Regions from separate parts of the Homo sapiens genome. Here region 1 is linked to region 2. Evidence: fine-mapped expression QTL. A gene starts in region 2. The other region holds a variant in brackets. All regions are shown on one strand. Distances are from middle to middle.

What was found. PIP is the estimated chance that this variant, and not a neighbour inherited with it, causes the effect.
Region 1: its variant is fine-mapped to the expression of TAFA5 in aorta (GTEx, PIP above 0.99).

The regions. Positions count from the first base shown.
Region 1 is chr22:48,570,844-48,585,869 of GRCh38, reverse strand. All of the region lies in intron 1 of TAFA5 (TAFA chemokine like family member 5), which reads right to left. LOC124900480 (a long non-coding RNA gene) reads right to left here and starts at 8,830. Exons shown (of 2, transcript XR_007068144.1): 1 at 8,201-8,830. RefSeq lists an enhancer at 8,218-8,724. The variant C/A (reference allele first, on the strand shown) is at 6,152.
Region 2 is chr22:48,482,126-48,497,151 of GRCh38, reverse strand. It overlaps TAFA5 (TAFA chemokine like family member 5), which reads right to left and starts at 7,599. Exons shown (of 4, transcript NM_001082967.3): 1 at 7,448-7,599. The coding sequence starts at 7,559. RefSeq lists enhancers at 1-323, 1,186-2,046, 5,016-5,521.

The DNA of each region.
Region 1 (15,026 bases), 89 kb before region 2:
TATGTTTGTGTGTGTGTGTCTTGGCATGTGTTTGTGTGGGGGTGTGTTTCTGCGCTTTGTGTGTGCGTGGCCTTCACAGGGTATGTGTGGTGTGTGTGTGGTATGCGTATTTGGTATGCGTATGTGGTGTATGTTATGTGTGTGTGTTGTGTGTGGTATATTCTGTGTCTGTGTATACGTTGTGTATGTTTGTGGTGTGTGTGGTGTGTGTGCATAATGCATAGTGTGTGTGTGATGTCTAGTGTGTGTGGTGTATTTTGTTGTGTGTGGTATCTGTGTGGTGTATTGTGTGTCTGCGGTGTGTGCTGTGTGGTATGAGCAGTGTGATGTTTTTTGTGAGTGGTGTGTGGTATCTAGTTTGTATGGTGTATGTGGTGTATTTTGTATGTGGTGTATGTGTGGTGTATTTTGTGTGGTGTGTGGGATGTGGCATGTGTGTGATGTGTTGTGTGTGTGTATGTGGTGTGTGGTGTGTGTGGTGTGTGCTGTGTGGTGTATGAATATTTTGTATGTGTATGTGGTGTATTTTATGTGTGTGTGTGTGAATATTTTGTATGTGTATGTGGTGTATTTTATGTGTGTGTGTTGTGTGTGGTTAGGTGGTATATTATCTGTGTATGTATGTTGTGTATGTGGTATGTTTGTGGGTTTCTGTGTGTGTGTGGTGTTTGGCATGTGGTATGTGTGCACAGTGTGTCGTGTGTGGTGTCTAGTGTGTGGTGTATTTTGTTGTGTGTGGCATCTGTGTGGTGTATTGTGTGTGTGTGCGTGGTGTGTGCTGTGTGTGTAGTGTATGCTGTGTGTGTGATGTTTTTGTGAGTGGTGTGCGTGTGGTATCTAGTGTGTGTGGTGTATTCTGCATGTGGTGTGTGTGTGTACATGTGAATGTGTGTGATGTATTTTCTGTGTGGTGTGTGTGTGATATCAGTGCAGTGTATTTTGTGTGTGTGTGTGTGGTGTGTGTGTGTGAGATGTATTTTGTGAATGGTGTGCTTGTGGTATGTGGTGTATTTAGCGTGTTGTGTGCTGTGTGTTGTATACGTGTGTATGCGTGTGTGCTGTATTTTGTGTGGTGAGTGGCATGTAGCGTGTGTGATGTGTGTGGTGTGTTGTGTGTGTGTGGAGGGTGCGTGTATATGGTGCGTGTGGGGTGTGTGGTGCATTTTGTGTGGTGTGTGTTTGTGGTGTATGTGTGTGTGATTTGTGCTGTGTGTGTGGTGCATGTGTGATGTATTTTGTGAGTGGTGTGTGTGCATGCGTGTGTGGTGTGGTGTGTGTGAGGTGTATTTTGTGTCGTGTGGTGCATGGCATGTAGTGTGTGTGATGTGTGTGTATTTTGTGTGGTGTGTATGTGTGTGTGTGTGTGGTGTATTTTGTGTGTGGTGTGAATGTGTAGTATATTTTGTGTGTGGTGTGTACGTGTGTGGTGTATTTACATAGTATATTTTGTGTGCCATGTGTATCTATGTGTGTGGTGTGTACTGTGCGTGTGGTGTGTACTGTGTGTGGTGCACGGTGTGTGTGGTGTGTGTGATATCTGTGTGGTGTATTTTGTGTGTGTGTGGTCTGCTGTCTGCTGTGTGTGGTGTGTGTGTGTGTGGTGTGTGATGTATTTTGTAAGTGTGTGGTGTCCAATGTGTGTGGTGTATGTGGTGTATTTTGTGTGTTGTGTATTTTGTGTGGTGAGTGGTGTGTGGTGTGTGTATGATGTATGTGATGTTTTGTGGGGGGGTGTGTGCATGTGATTGGTGTGTGTGTGTGGTGTGTGTGTGTGATATATTTTGTGAGTGGTGTGTGGTGTCTGGTATGTGTGGTGTATGTGGTGTATTTTGTGTGTGGTGTGTGGCGTGTGGTGTGTGGTGTGTTATATGTGTGGGTAGGTGTATATGGTGTGTGTGGTATATTTTGTGTGTGGTGTGTGTATGGTGTGTGGTGTGTGGTGTGTGTGTGGTGTATGAGGTTTATTTTGTGTGGTGTGTGGCGTGTGTGTATGATGTTGCGTGTGTGTGTGGTGTATTTTTTGTGTGGCGTGTGTATATATGTAGTGTATTTTGTATGTGGTGTGTTGTGTGCTGTGTGGTATGTTTGCATGGTATATTTTCTGTGGCGTGTACTGTGTGTGTGGTGTCTGTGTGGCACATTTTGTGTGTGGTGTGTGTGGGATGTGGCGTGTGTATATTTTGTGTGTGATGTGAGGCATGTGTGTGGTGTGTGGTGTATTTTGTGTGTGGTTTGTGTATGGTGTATTTCGTGTGTGGGGTGTGGTGTGTGTATATTTGGTGTGTGGTGTGTGTGCGTGATGTGTGGTGTGTGTGGTGTATTTTGTATGTGGTGTGTGGTATGTGTATATTTTGTGTTTGGTTGCACTGTGTGGTGTGTGGTGTATTTTGTATGTGGTGTGTGGTATGTGTATATTTTGTGTGCGGTGGGTACTGTGTGTGTGGTGTGTGTGTGGCGTATTTTGTGTGTGGTGTGTGGTGTATTTTGTATGTGGTGTGTGGTATGTGTATATTTTGTGTTTGGTGTGCACTGGTGTGCGTATTTTGTGTATAGTGTGTGGTGTGTGTGTGGTGTGTGGTGTATTTTGTGTGTGGTGTGTGGTGTGTGTATAGTGTGTGGTGTGTGTGCGGTGTGTGGTGTATTTTGTATGTGGTGTGTGGTATGTGTATATTTTGTGTTTGGAGTGCACTGTGTGTGTGGTGTGTGGTATATTTTGTGTGTGGTGTGTGGTGTGTGTGTGGCGTGTGATGTGTGTGTGGCGTGTGGTGTATTTTGTGTGTGGGGTGTGTGGTGTATTTTGTGTGTGGTGTACTTTGTGTGCGGTGTGTGTGGTGTATTTTGCATGTGGTGTGTGGTGTATTTTGTGTGTGGTTTATTTTGTGTGTGGTGTATTTTGTGTGTGGTGTGTGGTGTGTGTGTGGCATGTGGTGTATTTCGTGTGTGGCGTGTGTGGTGTATTTTGTGTGTGGTGTACTTTGTGTGCAGTGTGTGTGGTGTATTTTGCGTGTGGTGTGTGTGGTGTATTTTGTGTGTGGTTTATTGTGTGTGGTGTGTGGTGTATTTCATGTGTGGTGTATTTTGTGTGTGGTGTGTGTGGTGTATTTTGTGTGTGGTGTGTACTGTATTTTGTGTGTGGTGTATTTTGAGTGTAGTGTGTGGTGTATTTTGTGTGTGGTGTGTGGTGTATTTCGTGTGTGGTGTATTTTGTGTGTGGTGTGTGTGGTATATTTTGTGTGTGGTGTGTGGTGTATTTTGTGTGTGGCGTGTGGTGTATTTTGTGTGTGGTATGTGGCGTATTTTGTGTGTGGTGTATTTTGTGTGTGGTATGTGGTGTATTTTGTGTGTGGTGTATTTTGTGTGTAGTGTATTTTGTGTGTGGTGTGTGGTGTATTTTGTGTGTGGTGTATTTTGTGTGTGGTATGTGGTGTATTTTGTGTGTGGTATGTGGTGTATTTTGTGTGTGGTGTATTTTGTGTGTGGTATGTGGTGTATTTTGTGTGTGGTACGTGGTGTATTTTGTGTGTGGTGTATTTTGTGTGTGGTATGTGGTGTATTTTGCGTGTGGGGTGTGTATGTGGTGTGCAGCATATGGTGTGTAGTGTGTGCAGTATGTGGGGTGTATGGTATGCGTTGTGTTTTTTGTGTGGTGTGGGTGTGTGCATCGTGTAGTGTGTGGTGTGTCTCTGTTGGGGGGCACCGCAGTGCGTGTCTCTGGGAGAGGTGGGCTCACACACAGAGCCCAGGTAAAAGGAGAACGAGGAAAGGGCCGCCTGCCCCGACAGGCAGGTCAGGGCTCCCACAGTACAAAGGCTACCGGGTCCCATGGTTGGTCTCAAAGGAGCCCTGTCCACTCACTGGGTGCGTGTGTGAGCGAACAGTCCCATGTTCCACGCAGACCCACAGCTGCGTGCTTCGCTCCATGTTTTCTGTCTGCTCAGATCGCAGTGCAGCCACAAAACTATGTGTCTCTGCGTAAATAAGGTGAGGATGCCTCCCTCCCCTCTCCAGGAACACAGGAACACCACTGCCTGCGTGCGCTGCTCCCTAACGAAGGGGCTGTATTTTAAATGAGGTTTATAATGCATGATCCTGTAGTTTATGTTTAAGAAGATCACACACAATGATATGAACACCTATGAGCATTTAGTTATGCATAAGCAGGCACGTGTACACACACACATATGCACACACATGAACATGTCAGCAGTGAACCCTTCCAAGAAGGTTGCCCCCGAACCCGGCCTTCTCCAGGCCCAGGGGCTCTTGGGCTGTGTCTGCAGCCAGCACTCTACTGAGCACGGACACGGCCTCGCCAGTGGCCCCTCTCCTACAGCTCCGCGCGCCCAGAGACGGGCAAAAACCACCCACCTCCAGACCACCGAGTGGGGAATAAAACCATTCTCCGCACGGCTTTCTCGCACTGTGCTCAGCACGGCAGCAACATGGGAGACTGATGAGTTTCCACAGATGCCGGCGGCAAGATCAGCCGCAATCCAATCCTCCCGAGTGTGCAGTGGGAGGGACCCCCAGCTGGCCCCGTCCGTCCACTGCCAGCCTGGCCCTCGGCAGGGACTGGCTCGGCCCTTGCAGGGAGGCCTGGGAGGCTGGGACTCCTGTGCCCAGCAAGGCTGTGATGAGCCACCTTGTGTCTGGAAGTCACCTCCATTTCCAGTCCTTTTATATTCTAACTTTTACAGTTGTCAGAGACACAGCAGATGAGAATCCCATTACGGTGAGTGTGGGTTTTATTTAGATTCTGTGTCACACAAGAAATGATAGTAAATGATGATAAAAGAGTTGGTTATTTTTAACGCCTTTTCATTTCCACCCCTCCCAGCAGCCATTCACACCTACCTGGCCTTGCAAACAGCGTCTGCTGGAGGGTCAGGGAGAGGCAGGCTGAGGGACACCTGCCATGTGGGGCTGGCACTGCGATGCCCCTGCGCTCTGTCTGCCTGCACACCTCATCAGGGCCATAAAAACAATGCACCCAGGAAGTGGGCTAGGGAAGCCCCTGGGGCCCCTAGACAAAGCCCAGCACCCCTCCACACGCAGTCTGAGACTCAGGGAGAAATGAGCAGCCAGCTCCAAGCTCGGAGCCTGGCGGCCGGGGCAGCCCCATGCCAAGACTGGGTGCAGGGGTGCAGGCACAGCTGGCCGTAAGCATTGAGAACACAGAGCTGCCGAACTCCCTCCTCCTTCCACACACACCGCGTGCAGTGAGTTCCTCCTCCACCGTTAGACACTCAGAATGGAGCCCGGTGCAGCCTCGAGCCCTCACCAAGAACAGCCTTGCTGCTCTGGGAAACCTCAAGGGCATCTACCAAGCCCTCACCCAACCCATCATGGACCATCCACAGCCCTAGCTCTATGCCTCTGGGACAGAATGGCTGTACGCATTCAGCAAATATTTTTGATGGAGTCTTAGGGCCGGGAACTGTGCTGTGTCTCCTAAGAAGTTCTCTATCCATTTCTTAAAAAATAAACTGATCCATCTAACAGATAGACGAACACTCTGCATTGGCTGCTAATCTTGTAAAGACAGCATCAATTAATGATGACTGCGCGGAGCCATAACCATTCATACACCATCAATTGCCTTCACGGAGCTGAGCATGCCCCTTGTTACGGGCCACATGGGTTTGCAGGAGGACGCCTCATTTCCGAAAGAGCCAGCTAACTAAATCAATGGAAGTTGAATCCGTTGACTCAATCAACAGTCTGCCCTCCGAGCAGCTGCTCAAAGACAGGCACGCCACAGCGGTTCTGAAAGCGCTTCTGGAATCGAGGCCCGGGTACACCGTGCCGCGGCCGCTGGACGCAAAGTTCTCAATATTAACCTGCAAAAGAGGCTTTTGCACAGCACGTTCAAGCCGTCGAATGCACTCCCCTGCCACCAAAAGGATTTACCGAGATAGAGTTGAACCTCAAACCCACATTTAAAGGAAAGAGGCACTGGGTTCTCCCTCCCATTCAGAAAGGATCGGGCCGAATGATTTCCCGGCTTTCTCATGTCCCTTTGGGTGCCAAAGCCCAGAAACCTCTCTGCCGCTGTGGCCTGCCTGGGTGGCCCAGGCTTGCCGCATTCCTTCCTCTTTGAAGTATTTTCCTATCCTTCTGTTTACATTAAGCTTCCACACCAAAGCCTGCT[C/A]ATCTGTGCTGGAGTGCTGGAGTCCAAGTGACTCAAGACTTCCAGAAAAATATTGTAAAGTCTTTGGAAGAGGGAGGTGGAAAATATTTTTATACTTCTCGCCGTTTCCTTAACTCCGTATTTGGAGGCCAAACATGATGATGGAGATAAAGTGCTGGCTTCCCTCTCGCGTCTCCGTGACACACGTCGTCTGCACCCTAAGGAAGCGGCCGGCTCTTCCATCAGGGTCCTGGGATTCCCGCCCTCGTCCCCCACTTTAACTACACCCCATGCAGACACAGCACGTGCACACACCAGGCAGTTCAGAAGAAAGGACGGCTCTCCCCTCCCAGAGGAGGGTCAGCGTGTCCTAAGGATGACAAGGCAAGAAGAGCAGCTGCCCAGGCCCCAGTGCCGGACCCCACGCTGCGGCCCTGCTTTCTTCCTGGGCCTGTGGCTGCCCAGCCAGGCCTGGTGCGGTGGGCAGGACCTGTTCTCACAAAGCTGGGACATACCGAGGCTGCAATTATGGACCGCAATTTGCCTCTCTCTCGGTTCACAGCCCTATTCATCTCCACAAACACTGGAAGACCAGAGTGGCCAGGGGGGGACGGATTAGCCACGGGGTGGCCTCTATCTCCACACAAAAGGAGAAGTGTGGAAAAACGGCTCCCTGGGTCCCCCATTCTTCACCCCTGAAGAAAACAGATTCATGAAAATGGCTATTTAAACAGCTCTTTCCCACTCAGGCCCAGACAACAAGTCACAATTGTCCACCCGCCTGCCTTGTTCCCTCCCTCCTGCTGGACAGCGGCTGCTGGGAGGAGAGTGGCCCCAGGCCGAGCCCATCAGCCAGGAACCAGAGTCGGCCACCCCCCTCCCTGCACCTCTCACTGCTGGTCCCCCAGGCCTCCCCTGGGGCTCCTGATGCCAAGGGGCCAAAAGGCCGTCTCAGCAAGGACAGGGAGGCTGCCCAAGTCCTGACCTTCCAGACAGACAGGCAGCAGGGCTCAACCCAGGGTGGTGAAGGCCACCGCTTCCGGACAGGGAGACAGGACTTCAGGAGTCCTGGAGGGCTGCGCAAACACTGGGACCCGCAATCGCTCCTCCAAAGGTACCTGTGCCCTCAGCGTACAGCTGACCCCATCCTCATCCCACCTTCCTATGACTGCGCCGTCTTCCACAACACCGACACACGTGTGTCTGCTTCAAGGTAAACATGGAGATCTCTGTGAAGGGCTAAATCCACAAAAAGTACTCCACTAAGCGAGGCCTGCTCCACACCTAGACCCTCCCATCTGGGAGACAGAAACTCTTTCTTCTTGGCCAAAAAACAGAGTCCTTTAGACCTGGAGCCTCAGGGGGACAGCAGAGCCCCCGGAGGCACCTGCACTGGGGCAGCGCCGCAGGGCGAGGCAGAAAGGAAGCCCTTGTCACAGGCCGGCCACATGGCCAGGAGCTTCTCCCGTTACTAACTCACAGCTTCAAAGTCAGTGGAACTTCACTTCATCACAGAGTGTCAGGATGCAGCTGGGCACCTGGACCTCAGAGAAACACTGAAATTTTCACATACACGCCCTTTCCGCAAGCCAATCCCCCAGAGACTTCGAGATCAGCCAGAGAGGCAGAGAACTTGCAGCGCGAACACAAACAGGCCCAGCAGAGCAGGGACCCCTTTGCCAGGTACCTGGAATGCACCAGGGGTGGCTCCCACAGTCCTGACACGCGACACCAGCAGAGGACAGCCCTCGCGGGCTTGCCTGGACCCAATGACTCCTCAGCAGGAAGGATGGCCTCCCCAGCCCCAAGTGCTACTGCCCTATGGCAGAACCACCCACTCCTGAAGTGGGTCAGCAAGGCAGCAGGAAGAAGTTGGGCCTCCCACCTGGGGAAGGGTCCCCGCAAGCCCGGGCTGGCAGGCCAAGCCCGCAGCAGAGTCCTGGGGTAGCCTACTCTCCCTTCAGACCTGGCCCTCCTCTGTACTAGGTGCCCACATCCAAAAGCAAGGGAGGGAAGTGGACACCAGGCCCGTGGAGGTCACAGGGTCTCGGGCCGGGCTCCTGCACCTACCTGCTTCCCCAGGCCTCCGGCGGCTCATTAATTAGTCAGGAAAGCAGCTGAATGTTGCAAGCCCTTCCTCTGCAGGAACCCAGAACTAATGAGAACCCAGCGCCTTACCAGCCACACAGGCGCCCTCCGGTGCTCAGCCTTCCCAGCGGACCAAGGGGAGCACCAGGCGGAGCTGGCCCAGCCTGTGTGCCAGAGCACTAGTAACCATGAGCAGGGGTGCCCGGGGGGAGGCCAACGCCTCAGTTGCCCCCAGTCTGATATGACAGGCCAGGCTGATCCCGGGGTGCACCGGGAGCCCTGCAAAGGGAGCCTGGCCCTGAAACCAGGAAGTTTCCAGGAGTGTGTCTGGGGTGCCTGGAGCCGACCGACCGCCCATCAGGGGAGGTGTGGCCCTGCCCCCAACCCCCAGTAAGATGCTTCCCAGTACAAAGGGCCTCTCCAGCCACGAGGGTCCAACCGTTATCCTGGGCGCCTCAATAGTCCCAGACTGCCCTGCAGTCCAGCAAAGACCAAGAGAGCAGGGGCAGAACTTGGCGCGGGGACCTGCGCACCCCGGTGACCAAGCCCCTGCTTCCCAAACCTATGGGTCTCTGGAAGGCGGCTTGGGCCCTGGGGAACAGGTGCGCAGGCCGGTTTCCCGACGTCCGCGGGTCCCAGCCCGGCGCCCACCCTGGCGGGTCCCAGCTCCGCTCCCGCCCCAGCCCGGCCGGCCACCGTGGAGCGCTGGTGCCATCTACCGAGGGCCCGGCGGCGTGCGGGCGGGCGCCGCTGCCACCGAGCCCAGTGGGGCAGGGGATGGGAACGGCAGCCTCGGCTTGGGCTGGGGATCCGGGGCGGCGCCAGAGGCACCGAGAACGCAGCGCGCCCCGACCCCGCGCCCTGCCGGTGAGCCCCGATGGGCGCGGGGCAGCGAGATCCGCGGGGGGTCGGGCTCCTGGTAGGGTCGCGCCGCCGGCCGCTCCGGGCCCGCAGTGGCGCTCCACGAGCCTCAGCCGAGCGCGGCGGCAGCGGAACGTGCTGGAAGCCGGGTCGGGCGCCGGAGCCGCCGCGAGCCGGGCAGAGCGCGGAGGACCGGTCCGCGCGCCCGGGGACAATTACCTTCTTTGAGGAACTGCGCGTGGATCACTAGGACGAGGAAGCAGCAGAGCGCGGCCCCTGCCAGTGCCCAGAGCGCCTTCAGGAGCTGCATCGCGGAGTCCCAACTCGGCCGACGCCCCCGAAGTCGCGCAGCGAAGGTCCAGGCGCCGCATCAGCGCCCCGCCGGGTGCAGCCTCCGCGGCCGCCCGCTCGCGCCCTCCATCCGCCGCCAACGCCGCGCTCCGCCGCGACTGGAGGCGCCACTCCGGGAGGCGATTTGTGTCTTTCTGGGCAGGGGGGAGGGGAGCGGGCGGGGGGAGGGGGGCGCCGCGGAGGGGGCGGGCGGGGGCGGGGAGGTTAGCAGAAAGTCTCGGGCCGCGGCGGCCGCCGCTCCGACCACTCGGCCACCATCGCTGGCTGCGGGGCGCCGGGGGGCGGCCGCCGCGGCCCCATGAATCAGCCCCGCCGCCGCCCCCGGAGCCGCACCGCCAGCAGGGCCCGGACGGCGGGCCGCGGATTGCGCAACGGCCGGGCGGCGCGGGGGGGGGGGGGGTCCGGCGCGGCCCCGGCCCCCTCCTCCGCCTGTCGGCCCCCACCGCCCGCTGCTCGGCGTCGCCTTCCTCCTCCTCCTCTTCCTCCGCCGCCGCCGCCTCCTCCGCCGCCCGCGCTCGCTCCGGCCCGGGGCTCAGGGGGCCGCCGCGCCGCCGCCGCCACCGCCGCCGCGGCGGGCCAGGCTCGGGGCCGGGGCTGCGCGCCGGGCGCGGGGCTGCCGCACCATCGCCGCCGCCGGGGTCCGCGCGGCCCGGCCGAGCCCGCGGCGATCGAACTTGCGCGGCCCGGGGCTGGCGGGCCGGTCCCCACCGGACGGTGCCGGCCTCTGCGCTCCCAGCAGCCCGCGCCTCCGCCGCCGCGGCCGGGACTAGGTCCGGGCCCACCGCGCCCCTGGGCTGCCCACGCTGGGCCGCCGCTGCCGGTGTCGGTGCCGGTGCCGGTGGCTGCCGCGCCTACAGGTGGGGCCGGCGACGCTGCGCGCCTCGCCGCCCGCGGGACGCCGCTGCTCCGGCCTGGAGGCGCGCGCCCGCCCGCTCGGCTCGGCGCCGGCTCCTCGGGGGAGGCGGCGGGAGGGGGAGCGCGGCGCAGTCGCTGCCGGCCCAGGTGGCCGGGCCCGCGCAGCCTCGGACTCCGGCCCGCGCCCGCCGCCGTCTGCGCTCCTCCCGGCCGCGGAGCCGCGGATGCGCACTGGGCCGCGAGGGACCCCGGGGACCCCGCCCTGCAGCGCCCCCGCCTGGCGCGCCGGCGGGTCAGGTGGGGCCGGCCCAGCCGAAAACTGCGGGTCGGGCTCCACCTAGGTGCGCAGGGGCCTCACTGCAGAGCCGGCCCTGCTGGCGCGGGAGACCGGACGCGGGGCCTCGAGTGGCGCCCAGCCTCCCTCGCACCCAAGGCCCCAGGAGAGACAGGGAAACCCCAGGCCCAGGTACCGCCCCAGCCGGGCCCGACCAGCGGCTGGGAGGGCTCGGAGGAGGCTGGTCCCGCGGCTTCTGAAAACGGCACATCTGCCTGGAAACACACACAAACACACTCACACCTGCCCCTACTGTGTACCACCCTCCAGCCAGCTGCCCTGCACCCAAGAGCGTGGGCGCACTGTTAATGCCCACGTTCCGTTCCAGAGGAAACAAACGGATGCCTCCCTGCACTGCCTCCCTTCCCGCCTCTAGGAAGAAAGGGTCTTTGTTTTAGGCCACTTTTGCTCCCCAACCCCGCTCCCCAGAGCAGGGGGCACAGGTGTCCTCGTCAGGGGTTCGCCCCAGAGCCCAGTACCAAGACCAGTGTGGTGGGCCTCAAGGTATTTTTGCCTGAATTGAATTTGAAATTCAATTTCAAATGACCAGAAAAGAGCAGTGGGCAGGAATCGGGGCCTAAGCTTCCTGGGACCCTGAACCTCTCTCCTGACCTGTGCAGGGTGGGGGCAGTGCTGGTGCCCGCGGTGCATGTGGTTCACATGAAGGCTGTCTCCTCCTTGCACCAGTATTGACGTGCCAGGAAGGGAAAGAGGCCTGGCCCTGAAGGGCTCTTGGAGGTCAGATAGATCAAGGCAATCAGTATGCATCTGGGGAAACTGAGGCTTATAGAGGCATGGTGACTGGTCTAACATCAACTAAAAAGTCAAGGGCAGAGTCAGGACCAGCCACTAAGCTTGATGCTGTCTGCCTGACCTGGCTCGCGGTGCCCAGCAGCCGGCCAGGGGAGAGGCCATCCACGAAGCAGTTCTTCACCTCTGGCTCATCACCCTCCACCTGCCCCCGAAAACATCCAGGAGAGACAAGAATGTCCCATCCAACTCCTCTCACCTAAAGGAGTGGCCCCAGCCTCACACCAGCCAAGCAACTAAGCAGCTGTGGATCTGCCCTGGGAGGGACTAGCCATTCTCTCTGCTCAGGCAATCCCCTTCAAAACCCCATTTCCTATAAGCACCCCACTGTTTCCTGCTCTCCACCCCTAGACATTCTCTAGGAAAGATCTAAGGTAGCAGCTCCTCAGGAACCCACCCTGCCTGGCTCGCAGAGCCTGACCTCCAGCAAGGTCGTTGGCCTTCATCCCTCACCTGGCACAGGGCTCCCCAGTCAGAGGACTCGGGGGTCTTCTGGGTGCTTATCACATGTGCTCACCCCTGGCCCCCAAAGGGACCTCAATCAGGAGAGAGAGCCTGCCCTTGACACTCACTGTGTCCCCAATCAGGTGCATATCATTTGAAATTCTGAAAATAGAAAAGTGTGCTACGTTCACCAAGGGAATATTTAAGAACTACAATTGGAAGATCCTTCTGTAAAGAGAATTAAAGAGGATAAAGGAGAAAAAAAAGAAAGTTCATAAATAGAGGCAGGCCCACCAATTCACTTTCAACAGGTGGGACAGGAGGACCTCCATACCTAATGTTGGGGGACCACCATCACACTTCTCCGGGCACCAAGGCTTCCTGTTAGTAAATGCATGTGGCATTGCTTACACTTTTAAAAGCAATCACAGCTGCAAACTCAAGAACCTCGTGTAGGGCTTCCGAAGAGTGAGTTAACAGTGCAGACCAAAGAGGCCCTGGGTGCCATTGGGAAGTCAGCTCCAGATGGCAGTGTGAACACCTGAACCAGATAAAACCAACACACATCTCAGGAGGAGACACCTAGGGTTCTCATTGACATGACAGGAAAAACCCTTTACAAATACTGAAACCATTACTGTGTTGGGAATCAAAATGCTAATCAAAATCTAAGCAAGCCAGAAAGGGTGAGGGGGTCCTGGGCCCAGTCTCTGGACAGAAGAGAAAAAACTGTGGTGGGAACCAACAGAAGGATGCCCACATCCTCCCGAGAAGGTGAAACAAACCAGGGGCATGGCCAGGTGTCCAGGCAGGAGGGCACTTGGCCAAAGAGCTGCACTTCCACAGTGCCGGGTGGGTGTGTCTTCCCCCAAACCCCTGCAAACTGCTGCTTTAAGGCTAGTGTAGCTCAGACCAGGGCCAGAGGAAAGCTGTCCACAGAGGGGGTGCCTTCTGCCCGGGGACAGTCCCCACAGTGCCTGAGGTGTGGGACTTTGGATGGAGAAAGTGAGCATTTAACATGTCTCTAAACGAAATTTAACACTGCCTTCAGTTAGGCATGTAGGCAGTAAACACAATACTTCAGCCATAACTATGACTTTGTCACCAACAAAAAGCACAGGTATTTTCATATCACATTACAGCTCTTGTAGCTATCTCAGTCTATTGCTTATTTTCACCATTACTTCAAATTATGGTCGTCCCACTACTAGACTTTGTATGTAATGTGTTCATAAAGAAAACACATTACTGTATCAAAAATAGGCTTTTTACCATTTGCTAACTGCATGTGGATATAATTGATCTTCTTCATCAGGTATTTTTAGTTTGTCCTGAGATGGGTGGCACAGGCTTCACCAGACTTCCAAACAGGCCCATGGCACACAAAAAAAGCCAGGAACCTGCTTCTGGAGTGAAAAACTCAAGGTCTAAGAAAAAACCAGGGCAGAGCAGAGTTAAGGACTTTGGTCACTCATGAGAAGCAGGGTCAGCAGGTCCAAAGGTAGCACAATTCCTCCCAAGAGTGAAATGCACAAAAACACCTGTCCCTAGGGTCAAGCCGCCAGCACCAGCAAATGTGGGGACCCTGTTTGCCCATCGGCTGCATGCCCACTTCCAGGGTGGCCCATCTGTCTACACACCTTGCTCATTCCCAGGGAATACAGTAAGTGCTCATGGTCAAGTGAGAAGCCTGTTGGGCTACACAGGGTAGAGGTGATTCACACTGACCGGTCACTACACACACTTCAACCTTTATTCCTATACAGACAGGACCTAGCAGGCAGAGATCACTAGGTGTTTGCAGAAAGCTAGAGGCATGAAAGAGAAGTCAGGCTCAGCTGTGCATACTCTACACTTGAACCTTAGGGGACAGAAATAATTCAGGGAAAATAATCATAACCGTAATTGTGATTATTCTAAATAGTATCATTCTCAAAAAATTTGAAATAATATGGTATCAATAAGAGAAAACCAGGCTCCCAAGGGGGAGAAAAGGCAAACAAGAGAACAAGGAAAAAAACTCCTGGAAATTAATGTGAGTGGACCATTTTAAGGTCTAGGGTATACACTGAATGGTAAAATGGGAATGAATGAAGACTGGGCTGTGGAAAGTAAAATCAAATATGTTTATAAGAGTGGAGAGCACATAGAAAGGTGAAAAAGTATGGAAAATTTGAGACCTAGAGGGTATATCCTAAACATTAAACATCCAACTTTCATTTATTAGAAGTTCTAAAGGAGAATAAAAGGCAACAAAGAGGAGGAAATAGTCAAATAAATAAATGCACATCTTCAGATTGTAGAGACTTACCATATTCTGATTAGATCTAATGGACAGACCCCTAGATCCAACCAATGCAAGAAAACCTTGCAGAATTTTTTTTTAAAGCAAAAAAAAAAAAAAAAAAAAAAAAAAAAAAAACAGGCCAGGCACAGTGGCTCATGCCTGTAATCCCAGCACTTTGGGAGGCCAAGGCAGGCAGATCACGAGGTCAGGAGATTGAGACCATCCTGGCCAACATGGTGAAACCCCATCTCTACTAAAAATACAAAAATTAGCTGGGCGTGGTAGTGGGTGCCTGTAATCCCAGGTACTCCAGATGCTGAGGCAGGAGAATCACTTGAACCCAGGAGGCAGAGGTTGCAGTGAGCCGAGATTGTTCTACTGCACTCCAGCCTGGCAACAGAGCGAGACTTTGTCTCAAAAAAAAAAAAAAAAAAAAAAGCAAACAACAACAACAAAAAAATGTTCTGAGGAAAGAAATGAGCTGATACTGAATTTTGCTTTAGAAACACTGGCTTCTCAAAGACAGTGGAGCAGTGACTTCAGATTCTGATGGGAAAAGATAGAAGACCTAGAATTTTATACCCAGCTAAACAGTCAACGATGCATACCATTTGAGGGGATTCAGAAGTTCAGTTTACTAGTCCCATCCCTTATAGAAAAAGCTGATCTAGGTTACACTCCACCAGAGAAAGGAATCAAGGGAATGTACTTGGAGATATGGGATAAAGGAAAATTTAGCACATTTGACTCTCTAGAAGTAGAAAAACTGTGAAGAATAGGTATGAAGATACATTAGGCCTTCATACTTGAAAGAATCTCCAACAGGTAAAATCTTTACAATGGTATATCTCTTTCTCCATAGTTCT
Region 2 (15,026 bases):
TTTCCATGGATGGGCCACTGCTGGGGAGCCCCGAGCCCGTGGGGAGTGGAGCTGGCACCGGGAGGAAGCCCAGACCTGGAGTCAGGCAGGCAGGCCTGCAGTCCCTGTGCGGGACCAGCCCCACCGCTCCCCATAAGGAGGGGGCCTCCAGTCCAGCAGCTCCTCCCCTGGTGGCTGGGAGGTGAGGGGGCGCCAAGCCTCTTTCTGGAAGGTGAAATGCAAGCACAGCAGCCTGTTACTGTGTTAGTGGTATTGCTTTCTCTGTATTTTCTTTCCTATATTCATTCAGAGATCCTGAACCAAGCATGAAGATGCTGTGGGCGACAGATTCCTGCATGTGCCTTTAGGTGGCACAGCCTACGCCGTTAACCCCCAGGAAACCAGGGCCCCTGATGGCTGGACCACCCCGCCTGCCCTTCACAACTCTCCCTGCGGTGCACCTGCAAACCAGGACCACACAGCGCCCTAAACGAGCAGGCAGTCCCAGCAGAGGTAGAGCCAGACCCCTCTGTGCCCAGCTCTGGGTGGAGTGGGTGACGTCAGAAGACATCGCCTACCACAAGTGGGCCCTCCTCTGTCCCCCACAGCTGGTCAGGCGTCCCTGACTCCCCTGGCTCCTCTGCCTGCAGGGTTGACATCATTGTATAGAAGGGTTTCCACATCCACGTGACCTTCTGGAGCTTCAGCCCACTGAGAGCTGGGAGGTTCCCTGTGGCTGCCTCACCGTACAGCTCACTGCCCAGCAGATGCCGTGACCAAAAGCATCTGTCCAGAGAGCCCACAGTCAGTCCCCCGAGGCCAGCAGCCATGCCCCAAGCTCACAGCCCAACAGCTCACTGCCCAGCAGATGCCGTGACCAAAAGCATCTGTCCAGAGAGCCCACAGTCAGTCCCCCGAGGCCAGCAGCCATGCCCCAAGCTCACAGCCCAAAACAAGGAAGAAAGTGACCCCGACAGTGGCCACCACAACACACACGCACAGCACTGGAGAGGGGATGGGGATGCATGCTCAGGGGATGCCTCAGGAAGCAGGGGATCCTCTAAGACATGAGGTGGGCACTTTCTGGCCTAGCTCACCATGCCTTCCTGCATCCACTGCATTTAGGGAGTAAGCCGGGCCTTCACGGGCGATAGGAGCACCACAGCACCTATGTCCAATCCGGAGTATGTGGGAGAGGAATGAGCACAAGCAGCTTCCTGGGAAGCTTCTAGAAGGCCCTGTAGGCAGGAGGCTGCTCTCAGGATTGGACTCCAGGGCTGGACAGAGGGATGGAGACTCCCACCTGGGCCGGAGGGCTCAGCTTTGGGCGCCCTGAGTGTGGTGAGCCAGGGGAGAGGGTGAGAGCCGGGGAGGAGGGTCGAAGGCAGCCAGGTTCTTCCAAGGGAAGTTATGGTTCAGGGCAGGGGCCTGGAGGCGGAGAAGCCACTGAGGATGACGCTGCTACATTCAGGAGGGAGAGCAGGTGTGAGGTCTCAAGTGACGGCAGCCCAGACAGAGAGAGGACGGGCAAGATGTCTTTGGGACAACGAATGGACATGCCGGCTGGGTGCAGGGCCAGGGGCACAGGGAGCCCAGGGAAGGGAGAACAAGGATGGAGGAGCCTCCCCAGATGGAAACCAGATCCAGAGCTAGATCTTGGGCTGCCTCTCACCACCTCTGGGAGGTCCCTGACATTCTGAGGTGGCGGCTGGGTTGGGACACAGAAGGGTAGCATGAAGAACCCACCAGAACACAGGGGCCTAGCCCAGGCTGCTCCCCCATCATCTTCGGCCTTTGCTTTGTGCCGACTGACTGTCCCCTCCCCTCTGGAATGTCAGCTCCAGGAGAGTGACCATCTCTGCCCCCGGGGCTTGGCGCATGGCTAGAGCTCACCCAAGACTAATTAAATGAATACCCTGGAAGCCACGTCTCCAGCTTCACCCGCAAGCCTGCAGCCAGCTCCACCACTCCTGCCTCCTTCGAGCAGTGCTGGAAGGAGACCCGCAGAGCCAGGCCCCTCCAAAGCGGAGGCTCACCCCATGGCAGGTGACACGCCAAGGGACAGGGAGGCCTCTTCCAGGGAGAATCACTGCGGGGCTGCCATCCCACTGGGCCCAGACCCACCGTCCCGCAGGATGCTGCTGGCATACAAAGCTGGAACTCAGCCTCCCTGGAGCCAGGAGGACCAGGGGATTCCAGAGGAGTCCCGCTCGCCTAGTTGGAGATAAAAGTAATTCCACACCCGATTCCTGCCAGCCATTTTAATAAATAAGTAAACGCTACAAAGCCTCAGGGAGCCCTCTACCACATTCGCCGGGGTGAAGGAGAGACGAGAATAGTCGCCCAGATCTGCTGCCAGCTGCCAGGCCCGCTTCTGGAAAGCCCAGCACCGAGGCAGCTTGTGCTGCTGCCGTGAGTCTTAGCACATTCTAGGGCGGAGAAGTCCGGAAGGGAGGAGCAGGGTGGCTGGAGCTGCTGTTCCTGGGCTCCAGGCCTATCCAGGGCCTCCACAGAAACCATCCACACTGGGGGCAGATCAGGGGGCCCTTGTCAGTGGAGAAGCCCCAGGACCATGTGCAAGGCAGCATTTAAGAAGAGACACACCAGACGCTATGGGCCCCCTGCATCTGCACCAACACAGGCCCCTGACACAGCCTCAAGGACAGTTCTCCTAACAAACAGTCATCAATCTACAGGGCTTTCCACACCCCAGTGCTCACTCCGGCCACCTGATCAGATTCTGGTCCTCCTTGTCCATCTCCACCCTGAATGCTGGGGCTGGACCATCGCTGACAGTGCTCCGGGTGACAGGTGGCAATCTGTAGAGGTCATTAACTCCAGAGCGCCACATTTTAATGCAAAAAGGAGCCCTTCTAAATCGGCGCAGATGCGAGCCTATATAAAGAAATGGGGATTTTAATGTTTTGCTTTTCTTCCCTTTTCTAGTGCCACATTATCATAACATTTTCCCATAATTACGCCCATAAAAGTCACCTGAAAATGCTTCATGCCACAAAAGTTGATCTACATATTTCATTCCGAGCATGTCGAGTGGCAGATCCTGAGCTCAGAACTCTGGGGCAGAACTTAGCTGGGGAGCCTGGTATGGAAGAGACCCATCAGGTGGAGCCTCCTTCTTGGGTTCAAGTGTCCTCTGGCCTCAGGGAGGTCCAGCAGGGACACCTGTGTGGACAGTGGAAGAGTGGAGACCCCCCTTCTGGCCCTATCTCAGTGAAAGAGCAGGGGTGGAAGGTGGGAGGGGACAGTGGGGCACCGCCAGGATCACCAGGAGTAAATGCGGCTCTCCAGGGCACTGTCTAGAGCCGCTGGGAAGTCCCTTCCCCCAGGGGTCCCTTCGGAAGTCCCTTCCCCCAGGGGTCCCTGCGTGGGAAAATCCTGTGAGGGGACAAACCTGCCTCTTCCTCACTGAGCCTAGGGCATGGATGTCGGCTAAAAGAAATCCCAGAGACAGATAATTTATATTTATGGAGCTGAAAAAAAACAAACATCCCATCTTCTTGTGCCCCAAATTCATCAAATAAAAACACAGTGAGAATTTTTTCAAAAAAAGATGAGAAATAAACTTCTGAACGGCACCACTTCATTAAGCCTCCACTGTTTTCCATTTTACCTCTTCGAGAACTCCAGAACAAAATTTGAACAGCAGGAAAGTAACATATTCTAATCGCTCCTAAATATGCAATAAATTGTATTTATAAAGGAAATGCAACACTACAGTGCCTACGCTCAGTTAGGATTCTAATGGATTCAAAACAATTCCAAAGTTGTTTGTAATTTCTTCTCATAGTTATAGATGAGGACATGAGATTTAACTGGAAGGTACAGCTCAATATTGACGGGATTTATTTGGAAATTTCCATGTCCAGCACATAGTGAACCTGTCTGTCTTCCTCACTCTCCCTGGTACGCTGAAATATAGTCTGGGTCCCCACCATCCACCTGCTCGTGCTGAATAGGGCACATGGAATCTAGGCTAGTGCAGAGTGTCCTTCACCTTTGATTTCAACGCTGCACACAAGGACCGAGTCAGTGCTTAGGTGTCATAGGGAGTTGCCCCAGGTCCTCATTTGCTTCTCTCCCTTGCTGCTGTTCTATCCTAGATGCCAGGGTGGAAAGATCACATCTTCAGCGGCGGGCACAGAACACCCTCAACCAGCTCTAGCTGGGTCAAGAGGTCCCATTCCACATCTAGGCAAGAACCACATCTAGGCAGACAGACTTCTCTACTCCAAATACGCTAAGGGGAAAACAACCTATATCAACTCTTTTTAAGCCACACCCAGAGAGGTTTCCTCAGACCAGAATGGAGAAGAGCTTCAACTTCCCCATCAAAGCTCATCATCATGCAAGTCAACTTATTACCAACCATCCAACAACCCTCATGGGCAGCACCGGCCGCGGAGGAAACCAAGCCTGCTGTCACCGTGATGGTCGCAGACCACCGAGCATGCATTTTAAAGTGAGCCATCCAGGGCCCCTTTCCCCTGTTTGCGTCTCCTGGCACTTCTTCCCCAGGAGGAGAAAATGACAAGGCTGTGTCACTATAGCAACTAGCCTAATTGGTGGACTGCAGGTCTTTCTCCGGCCAGACGGTGGAGCCCATCTCCTTCTATATGGATCCCAGCACACGAGAAAGAAAGAAGGCCGGACTCTCACTGGGCCAAGAACAGTAGAATCCCCCCAACAGAAAACCAGGCCAAGAAAGAATCCAGTTTCCTCCTAGCTGCACTAGGAAGCCAGCACCTTATGTGTTGCAGAGAAACACACAGATTTAATAGGCAGGATAATTGAACGCTGTATGATACTTATCAGTTTCCCTAATTAATATGATACAAATATATCTGCTTCATAACACAAAGACATTTTGAGTAATAAAAATCCTTACTGATGACAAAAACAATTTACAAACGAGAATACGAACTATTCTTCTTCATCCCAGATCTATTGGAAGAAAGAATGAAAATCCTAGGAACTGTTTAATTTGCATTTAATTTGCTTTATCGGTTCTGAAAAAAGGGGGGGGGATTTTTTTTCTCTAGGACTGCAGTTCCAAGCTATAAATTATTATTATGTCTATTTTGTATTTTAGTGAAATGTTTTAATTTCTCCAAGTACATTTCTGGTGTAATGGGGTGTGTCTCTTATTGTCAATTATTCCATTACATGGAGATGGAAACAGCCATAAAAAATGTGCTTCACCCAAGCTTCTGTTATTAATTATTTCTGCTACTCTGGTAAGACCTTCTTACCAATTGTCCTTGTCCTGGCGAAAGGCTGTTTCCAGAACGCTGGGGAGGCCTCCTAAGGAGGAGGGATGAGTGTGGAAACCAGATCTCCCATCCTCAGCGTGTCTAAGCAGCAGGCTCAGATGTCTGTGCTGGGACACCAGGACTCCACTCGGCAGAGCAGGCGACAGTCTCAGGAAGGTGTGAGCCCGTCCGGATGAACAACGTGCTGACACCTTAGGATTCAGGATGCAGCGCAGGGTGGGAGAGGGCTGACGCTGCGTGTCTTGAGACAGTGTGTACCGCGCTCCTCGCGGGCTCGGGAAGTGCGGTGTTGAAGCCACAGGGCCCTGGTGTCAAGTACTTCGCAACAATTAGCAGTTGTTCTTTTCCACACCTGCTGAGCTGCTGGGGGTTGGGGGTGAGGTGTTGTCCTGGGTTCTAGCAGCCAGCCAGGGATGGGCCGCCTGTAGTGGGCTCAGGGCACTACAGCCCCTCCCCAAACACTGCTGAATGAGCCCCCTCTCCCTCTCCTCTCCTCTCTCTCCTCTCCTCTGGGGTGATGCCACCAGGAAGTGCATTCAAATGCCTCCTCTTCCGCACAGAGTTTACCTGCCATTAACCCTTTCTACATCTCCTAGGAAGCCTTGCTTGGGGATCTTCTAGGGAATCCCCCCACATACCCCTGCAGGCCCCGTGACGGCCGCGGAAAACTCGGGGGCAGGCACAAATGTCGCTCAAACCCCCAGACCCTGCTCCCTGCAGGCGGCCAGCCAGTGAGTTCCCAGGGGCGCCGGCGCACCCACGGTGGCCTCGTCTGCCTGGGCAGCTCGGGTTGAGACCCCCAGGCTTGGCGACCCCTCCCCGCTCGGTGCCACAGCATTTCTAGGGAAATGCATAACCGCGCTGAAGCAAGTAGGAAAATTCCTGCTCTGGTCCCCGGGTTTCCCTTGCGATCCTGGCGAGCTGGGCTGTCCCAGGACTCCGGAGGCCGATCCCGCGGCTGCCCGGGTCTCCCTGGGCCACTGTGCTCTCATTTTGGCGACAGCGGAAGGATCAGATCGGACTGGGAGCTTGGAGGCCCGGGGCTCTGGAGGAGGTGGTGTCTGTGGAGGGAGGTTCGGTGCTGGCCTTTTTTTTTTTTTTTTGTAAAGAATCCATATTTTTCCATCACCTCCCGCGCCCATGGCAATTCTCCATGACAGGTGCTCCCCAGCACCCGTCCTATTCTCCCGCTGAAGACAAGAAGCCCGGAGCTCCCGGAGCTGAAGCCGACCAGCCCGCGCCATCTGGGGCCAGAGCCTGTGCCCGGGACGCTGAGCGGCCCCCACTTACCCCACCAGCCGCGAACGTGCCCCGGGATGCTGAGCACCCTCCCCAGCGCCGAGGCTGGAGTCTGCACCCGGGACTCCAACCACCCCTCATTCCACCCGCCTGGAGCCTCGGCAGGGGCACAGGCCACCCCCCACCCTTCACTCCAGGCAACAGGGAGCCCGCGGCGGTCACCCCCTACCCCAGCCCTCAGCTCACGCCCGGGCGCCCACTGGCCCGCACCACCCCAGCCCGCGCCCGCGCCAGTCCCGCCGGTCACCAGCTCGGGCCCCAGACACGACCCGAGAAACGTCCGCGGCCGCGGCGAGCCCCCTCCGGGCATCCCATCCCTCACTTCGCTTCTCTTTCCAGAAGGCGCCTGACGAGCCCGTTTCCCGGGAAAGCGGAAGCTCCAGCTGCTCCTCCGAGCCCAGGCTGGGCTCCTGCCTGAAGAGCTCCTCTCCGGGCTCGGCCGCCGCCTCCCCCCTTGTCCCGGGCTGAGGCACGGGGAGGGCGCTCCGCAGACACCCCGGCAGCGCCGCCCGCCCTCCGCGACCTGCGGCTGCCTCCTGAGCGCGCATCTCGGCCGGGAAGCCGCTGGCTGGGCTCCGACCGCCGGGCAGGGACGGGCCGCGCCACCCGGGGCCTGGAGCCCGGGCCCTGCCGGGGAGTCAGGGAAGGGAGGCTCGGGCCGGGGCGTCCGACCCCGAAGTGCTCGAGCGCCCGGAACCCGGGTGGACCCTCTCGCCCGCCCAGCGCAGCGTTGGACCGGCCGGGACTCGGGGGACCATGCGCCCGGCGCTCGTAACTCCGCGCCGACTCCGGGAGGCCCGCGGGGCGCCTGCCGGGGCCGGAGGAGGGGGTCCGGGGCCCAGAGGGCCGTGCCGGGGCCGGGGCCGCGCGGTACTCACTGCAGTAGGCGATGAGCAGGCTGGCCAGGATCATGAACGCCCAGAAAGTTGAGGACATGCTGGGCAGGGCGGTCGCATCTTGCCGGCTGCCGGTCCTGGGCGATGGCGCCATTGAAGCCGCGGCGCCCGCGCGGGGGGCAGCAGCGCGTCTCAGCAGCCGGCCCTGCCCGCGCCCCCGCGCCGGCCTCCACGTGCGGGCCCCGCGCGCGCCATCCTCCGCCGCCGCCGCCGCCGCGCCCGGGCCCCGGCCCACCGCGCCCCGCGCCGCGCCCGCGCCGCCCGCGCTCGCGCCCGCGCCCGCCGACCCCGCGCCGGCCCGCCAGGGGGACGCCGGCCCCGCTCTGGGCGTCACTGCGCGCCCCGGCTACGCGCGCCCCGGCATCCGCGAGAGAGGCGCGCGCCCGCCACCGCTGGGGGCTCCAGCCGCCCGCCGACCCGGGCCTGGCAGAGGGGACGCGGCGCCCAAGCCGCTCCTCCGGATGGCGACAGAGACGGCCTGACGCGCCCGCAGCCTGGGCCCCCCACGGGGAGGACGGCCGGGCCAGGTGAAGTTCGCGCACTTGGGCCTTCCGCGCCCCCATCCACCGCAGCCAGGGCCTGGAAGGCTGGGGAGGGGGCGGGGGCGGCAGACGCCTCCTAAGGTGGGTTCTGGGACTTGGATCCGGAGTTTATTCCAAGGAGAGGGTGCTCTGGGCCTGTTCCCTAGGTGTGCCCTGTTACCCAAAATCGGGCTTGTGCAGTGGGGTCCCTGAGTCCACTGGGAGCACAGCCTCAGACCCCAGCAGAGTCACCCTTCATCGGAAGCCCACCACCCTGAGGGCTCCTCCTCCACCTGGGGCGGCACTGCCAGGCACAGGCACGCACTTTCCCTCAGTCCTCTGCCCCACGATCACTCTACTCGGGCACCTCTGCCACTGCCTGGTCCTTGCTGAGCCATCTCCTGGTTCATCTCCCTGGAGTCCCTGCAGGACCGGCTCTCAGTGGCGTCTCCGGGCTCCCAGTCCCAGGACTGGTCCTATCCAGGTGGGTTTTCTGAGCAGGATGACAATGATCGCAATCTATTTTACCTGCATAGTCAACGATCATCTGCAAGACAGGTTCACTCCTATAACAAGCAAAGGATGGGGGGAAAATGAGCCTTGTAAGGACACAAGGACACTTTCCCCATCTCCAACCCTCCTAGTCATGTCCCCTCTGCACCTCCCTCTACAGCCCAGGAGATACGCTCCCCAGTCCAGGATGTCCAGATGGCCCTGCTGCCTGGAGAGGCTCTGGCCCCTGCCGGTAGCTGCCACAGCACCACCCCAAGCTCTGCCTTCCTGCAGGTTCGTGCACACGACTAATAGAACCCCTCCTCTGGAACTCACAAGATATTCTCCATCCTGCATAGGGCTGGGGGCTTGAGCACCCCAGGAGATTCTTTTGGCGCTGGAGACCCTTTTCTGAGGAGCCAGTAGAGGGCCTGCAAGTCAGATTGAGCAACCAGGGAGAAGAAGCATCATCCCTTCATCTTGAGGCCTGGTCCAGGGAGGTGAAGGGATGTGGACTGTCCCCAGCCGTACACTCACCCACAACTCATGCATGCAAGCATTCATGCCCCAATGCACACACAGCACCACACACACACATATTTTCCTTGAATCTCTCTCTCTCTCTCTCACACACACACACACACACACACACACACACACTCTCCCATCCACACACACACAACACTTTAGGAGAAACTGAGCAAAGAAAGGCAGCCTCTCACTGCGAGTCCTCTAACCCCCGTCCCAGTGGTTGTTGTGCACTGAAGCTTCCTTGCCAGGGGCTCTGACGGGATTCTTGTGTTAATATGATTGTGTCCATGCTTGTTTTCTCCCATCAATTTTGAATCCTGTTTAATTAAAACGCTGACTTTCCTGTTTAGTATCTTCTCAACTGCAGCTTCTCCCCGCTCTCTTTCCTGGCAGGGAGGTGATTCTGCAGAAGTTGGGGCTCCTGACAACTTTGGGGTGGCCATGAGGGACGTACCTCTTGCCTCTGGATGTGCAGGGTGGGCCTGGGACCCTGGCAGGGAGGGGCTCCCTCAATGGGATTCTGTGGAGTCAGCCATTGATGCCCAGGTCTCCACCCTTACAATTTCATTCCTTTCATTGAAGCCTTTTTTCCTGCTAAAAAGGATGTGGCTTTTAAAATGTTACAGATTCCAATTCATCCTGTCCATCCCGAACTCCTGTGCCAGACATTCCTTCATTCAACCTCTGTTTATTGAGCAACTACTTGGGCCAGGCACTGGGACTGGGGAAGCCAACAAGACATAGATTTTCTGTCCCCCTGGAAAGTGACAGTCAGTTTGAGAAACAGACAAGGAAACAAACAATTCCAGTGCAGTGTGGCAAGCGTCACGATGGGAGGGAGAGGAGAGCACTCTTGGAGCACAAGAGAGGAGCATTTACCCTAAAATCACACTCTAGAACACAGCAAGGTGTGTGCCAGGGAAGGCTTCCAGGAGACTGGTTTCCAGGCCCTTTTGGTCCATCCTTAGGACAAACACACACACACATGCACACATATATGCACATACATGAACACACACACGCACGTGAACACACAGGCACACACATCCACACACACGCACATACATGCACACACATGCTTTAACACACATGCACACACGCATGCACAAACATGCTTGGAGTGAAACTTTCCGAAGCAATATTTACCCCAAAAATACTCTGATGTTTTCTATTGTATCCTAATTCATTTTTGAAATGCTGGTTGCCCTCCCAATAATTTGGTTTATAGTAATTTTCTTTCTTTAAAAAATATGGTTTGAAGAGAGATGCAGTCTACCTTGACTTTGGGAGGGTATATTGGAGGCTTCTTGCCAAAGGACAGGGGCTGTGGTGACAATGGGGTGGCTGGGGAGGGCTCCCAAGCAGAGGAGAAGGGGTGCAGTGCGGTACCCGGCCTGCTGTATCCAGGAACTCAGACACTGAGGTTTTTGTGCTCGCAACATTAGGGCTATGGCGGGGAACCTTGGGCTATGGGAGAGCAGTGCCTGGTTCATTACATGCTGAATATTTCCAGAAAAAGGGAATGGAAGGGGAGCCCTTGGTGCTTATGACTTGGAGTCTAGAATGGTGGAGAGTCTGAAAATGGTGACGCTAGAAAAGGTGAATTCTCCACCCCAGGTTACAAGTAGACGGACCTGAGGAGTGGGGAGGCAGGGGGGAGGTGTGGGGTCCGAGATCAGATTGAAGAGATGGGGTCTCCCTGGGACAGCAACCTTGAGGTAATTACAAAGACACCACCCCCGGGCAGCCCGAAGGCAAGGGCAGGTGCCTGGTCCAGCCCCATCCCGGCCTTGTTTCCAGAGGCCTGGAGAGAGAGACCAAGATGGAAATTGAGGATGGGGGGTGAGCGCAGCCTGAATTCGGTTGCTAGGGAACAGAAAGCTCTGCTCTGGATCGCAACACACGCTACGGATTGACGATTTTGTTGTTGTTGTTGATGGGCTGGTTTTGATTACTAGCCAGAACTGACAGGAGTTTAGATTTTGAAACCTAAATAAGTCTATTAAGGAATCACACCATCACCTTAACTCCTACCCAAAAACGCAGGGGATGGCAATGGTGTAACCCTTGAGGGAGTCCTCGGCTCTCACCCCACACCAAGCCACCAGTCCTGGGACTGCTTCAGAGGCCTGACCCATAGAAGGGGCATCCTGCATGGCGGGGCACCCAGGGTGTCGGAGGAGGGCAATAGAAAAAGGGGCGTTACCCAGAGAGGAGGGGCGGCTGACCAGGGTGCGGACCCAGGCACGTACTGCAGTCAGGTGGCAGCCTCGCTGTCCTCCTGGGGATGTGAGCCCACTGCTCGCTGTGTTCTGCTGTGGTCGGCGGGGGTGGGTTGTTCTCTCTCCACTCCTCCCTGCGGTGAGGGTGTTTTCTATTTGCCATTAGGTTGCGGGTGCCCAACTGACCAAGGGCTTGCTGAGATACTGAATTTGGAGCTGAATGTTTTCACGGGGTGAGATGTCAGGATGTCCCTGCTGATACAGTGGGAGAAAAAATGTATTTTATGCAAGGCCAGCGCTATCTCCTAAAGGAAGCACACAGGTCTCTGAACAGCAGGTCGCGAAAGGTGGGGGCTGTAGCGGGCTATTGTGCCTGCTCTCCCAGGGATCTGTGCCTCCCTCTGAAAACAATTGCAGGCTTTCACCTTCCACACACATATCCCATGTGCATTTTACCAAGAGGTTACTCTGACAGCTGGGGGAGGACCCAGGTTGGCAGAGAGAATTGAGCCAGCTTGGCAGTGGCTGGGAAGATCCAGATGAGAGCCGGGGTGGCTGGCTTCTCAGGAGCAGCTGTCAAGGCAGGGATGTGGGGGGCTTGGCAGCTATCCAGGAAGTAGAACTGACAGGCTATGGGGACTCCGGAGTGGTGGGCATGGCAGAGATGTCCCAAGTGACTCCCCAGGCTTCTGGCTAGAGAACCTGGGCATGGCTGGGTGTGGTGGTTCCCGCCTATAATTCTAGCACTTTGGCAGGCCAAGAGGAGAGGGTAGCTTGAGGCCAGGAATTCAAGACCAGCCTGGGCAACAGAGCAAGACCCCCATCTCTACAAAAAATCAAAAAGTTAGGCAGCATGGTGGCACACACCTGTAGTCACAGCTACTTGGGAGGCTGAGGTGGGTGGATCGCTTGAGCCCATGAGTTCGAGGCTGCAGTGAGCTCTGACTGTATAACTGTACTCTGGCGTGGGCGATAGAGGAGACCCTGTCGAGAAGGAAGGAAGGAAGGAGGGAGGGAAGGAAGGAGAAGGAAGAGAAGGAGGGAGGGAGGGAGGAGAGGGGAGGGGAGGGAAGGGAAGGGATTCAGAGGTTGAAGTGGGAGTATCACTTGAGCCCATGAGTTCGAGGCTGCAGTGAGCTCTGACTGTATAACTACTCCGGCATGGGTGATAGTGGAGACCCTGTCAGGAAGGAAGGAAGGGAGGGAAGGAGGGAGGGAGGGGGGAGGGGAGGGGAGTGGGGGAGGGGAGGGAAGGGGAGGGGAGGGGAGGGAAGGGATTCAGAGGTTAAGGTGGGAGAATCGCTTGAGCCCATGAGTTCGAGTCTACAGTGAGCTCTGATTGTATAATTGCAATCCAGTCTGGGTGACAGAGGAGACCCTGTCAGGAAGGAAGGAAGGAAGGAGAAGGAAGGAGAAGGAAGGAGAAGGAGGGAGGGGAGGGGAGGGGAGGGGAGGGAGGAAGGCAGGCAGGCAGATCAGGGAAGTAGCAGGGATAGCCGTTAAGATGGGCCCCTCCAGCTGCTGGGAATGGACTTGACCAGTAGAGAGCTCAGGCACTTCCTCAGCAGCTTCCAGGCCGAGAGAAGAGCTGCAGCATGCAGGAAAGAGAAGCACAAAAGGCCAAAAGACGCACAGGGAGGAGGGGCGAGGCCCAGCAGGCACAGACTGTGTGCCCCGTGAGAACAGAGGCCACTTTGGTGCTGAATTCTCAGCCCTGAAAACAGTGCTTTGCAGACAGTTGGTAAATGACATGAATGCACGATTGAATGATAATTATCCATTTTATTGATCCAGTGTAGTAATGACAATAAGTAATATTGATACATCCCATACTAAGGGCCAGGCACTAGTCCAAGTTCCCCCATATACTCACTCACTTAATCTTCATAACAGCCCTAGGAGGCAGTCGATACCTGGATTTAAGGACGTTGAACCTGGGGCAAGGAGGCCTGCAGGCAATTGTCCTGGGATTTGTAGGCAGCCATGGGAGCTGAGGTTGGGATCCAGGTGGTGTGCTCCAGAGGACCTGCCCTGACGGCTGTGCCCACGGCCTCTCATCACCAAATCTCGTTCATTAAAAAAATACAAAATGGGGAGACAAGCAAAAGGAATACAGAATGTTCCTCAATTCTGCCACGCTGAGTTCACCACATTTAGCATTTTGTTAATATCTTTCACATCTTTTTTCACATATATGTTCATCCTGTAAATATTTTTTACACAGTTTTCTTAGTACACAGTGAATATTATTTCACGGAATTATATATTCTTCCAGAACATTGTGTTTTCTGGCGGCCTGAAATTCTGTAACACATAAATACTGCCGTTTATTCAATCAACCTTGATTTTTGGACATTTAGACAACTTCTAGTGTTTGGAAAACACTTCAGAAATGAACACCCTTTTACTGAAATCATTTTCTATATTTATGGTTATTTACAGAAAAAATTACAGAACTGGAATTGTTAGGTCCAAATAAGGACACAATTTTGAGGCCTTGCTGTACATTGACAAATTAATTTCCAAAAATATTAATATTAATTAGCATCCCTACGGACAGTGCGTGAGAGGAGCCACGTCAGTCTGTTCGCGTCAGCACCAGATATCATCCCTGGTGCCAGTACCTTCGACAATTTTGCCCGTAGGAAGAAGTTTTACTGTTGTTTCCATTTGCATTCCTCTAATAAGGATTAACAATTTTTATGTATGTCATTTTAGTGTCTTTTGTAGATCAACTGTTTATATTCTTTTTCAAATTTTCTCCTAGTGGGTTTGTCTTTTATTATTGATTAGTAAGAACTCTTTCAATTTATTTGTGGGATATAGTCCTTTAATTTTGGGGGAATTTCAAACAGAAAAAAATAGAAACAAGAATATCATCATATAACAATATTGTTATAATCATATTACAAATCATTGTTTTCATTTGTCATTGTTGAATGTGTCACGTGACCATGTTTCCTCTTGGAGGTTTAAGTATGTTGTCAATGGGAATGTGCCAGGAGGTTCTCATCTTTTGTATCTTTCAATATTTTAAACAGCTTCGTGGAGGTGTATTGACAGGGGTTCTTCAGAGAAACAGAACCAATAGGCTGTGTGTGTGTGTGTGTGTGTGTGCAGTGATATATCACTTAACAATGGGAATATATTCTGAGAAATGTGTTGTTAGGCAACGTTGTTGTGTGAACATCATAGACGTAGGTACTTACCCAAACCAAGATGGTGTAACCTACTGCACACCTAGGCAATATGGTAGGTTGAGGCTGTTGCTTCTCAGCTACAAACCTGTACAGTGTGTACTGAGTACTGTAGGTGATTGTAACAAATAATATTTATCTATCTAAATATAGAAAAAGGTAGGTACAGAAAAATATGGTATTGTAATCTTTTTTTTTTGAGATGGAGTCTTGCCCTGTCGCCCAGGCTGGAGTACAGTGGTGCAGTCTCGGCTCACTGCAACCTCCACCTCCCGGGTTCAAGCAGTTTTCCCTGCCTCAGCCTCCCGAGTAGTTGGGACTACAGGCACCCGCCACCACACCCAGATAATTTTTGTGTTTTTTGGTAGAGACGGGATTTCGCCATGTTGGCCAGGCTGGTCTCAAACTCCTGACTTCAGGTGATCTGCCCGCCTTGGCCTCCCAAAGTGCTGGGATTACAAGTGTGAGCCACTGCGCCCGGCCAGTATTGTAATTTTATGGGGCCGCCATCATATATGAGGTTCATTGTTAACCTAAACATCATCATTCAGCACATGACTGTATATGTAAAGAGAGAGAGAGAGAGAGAGACTGTCTG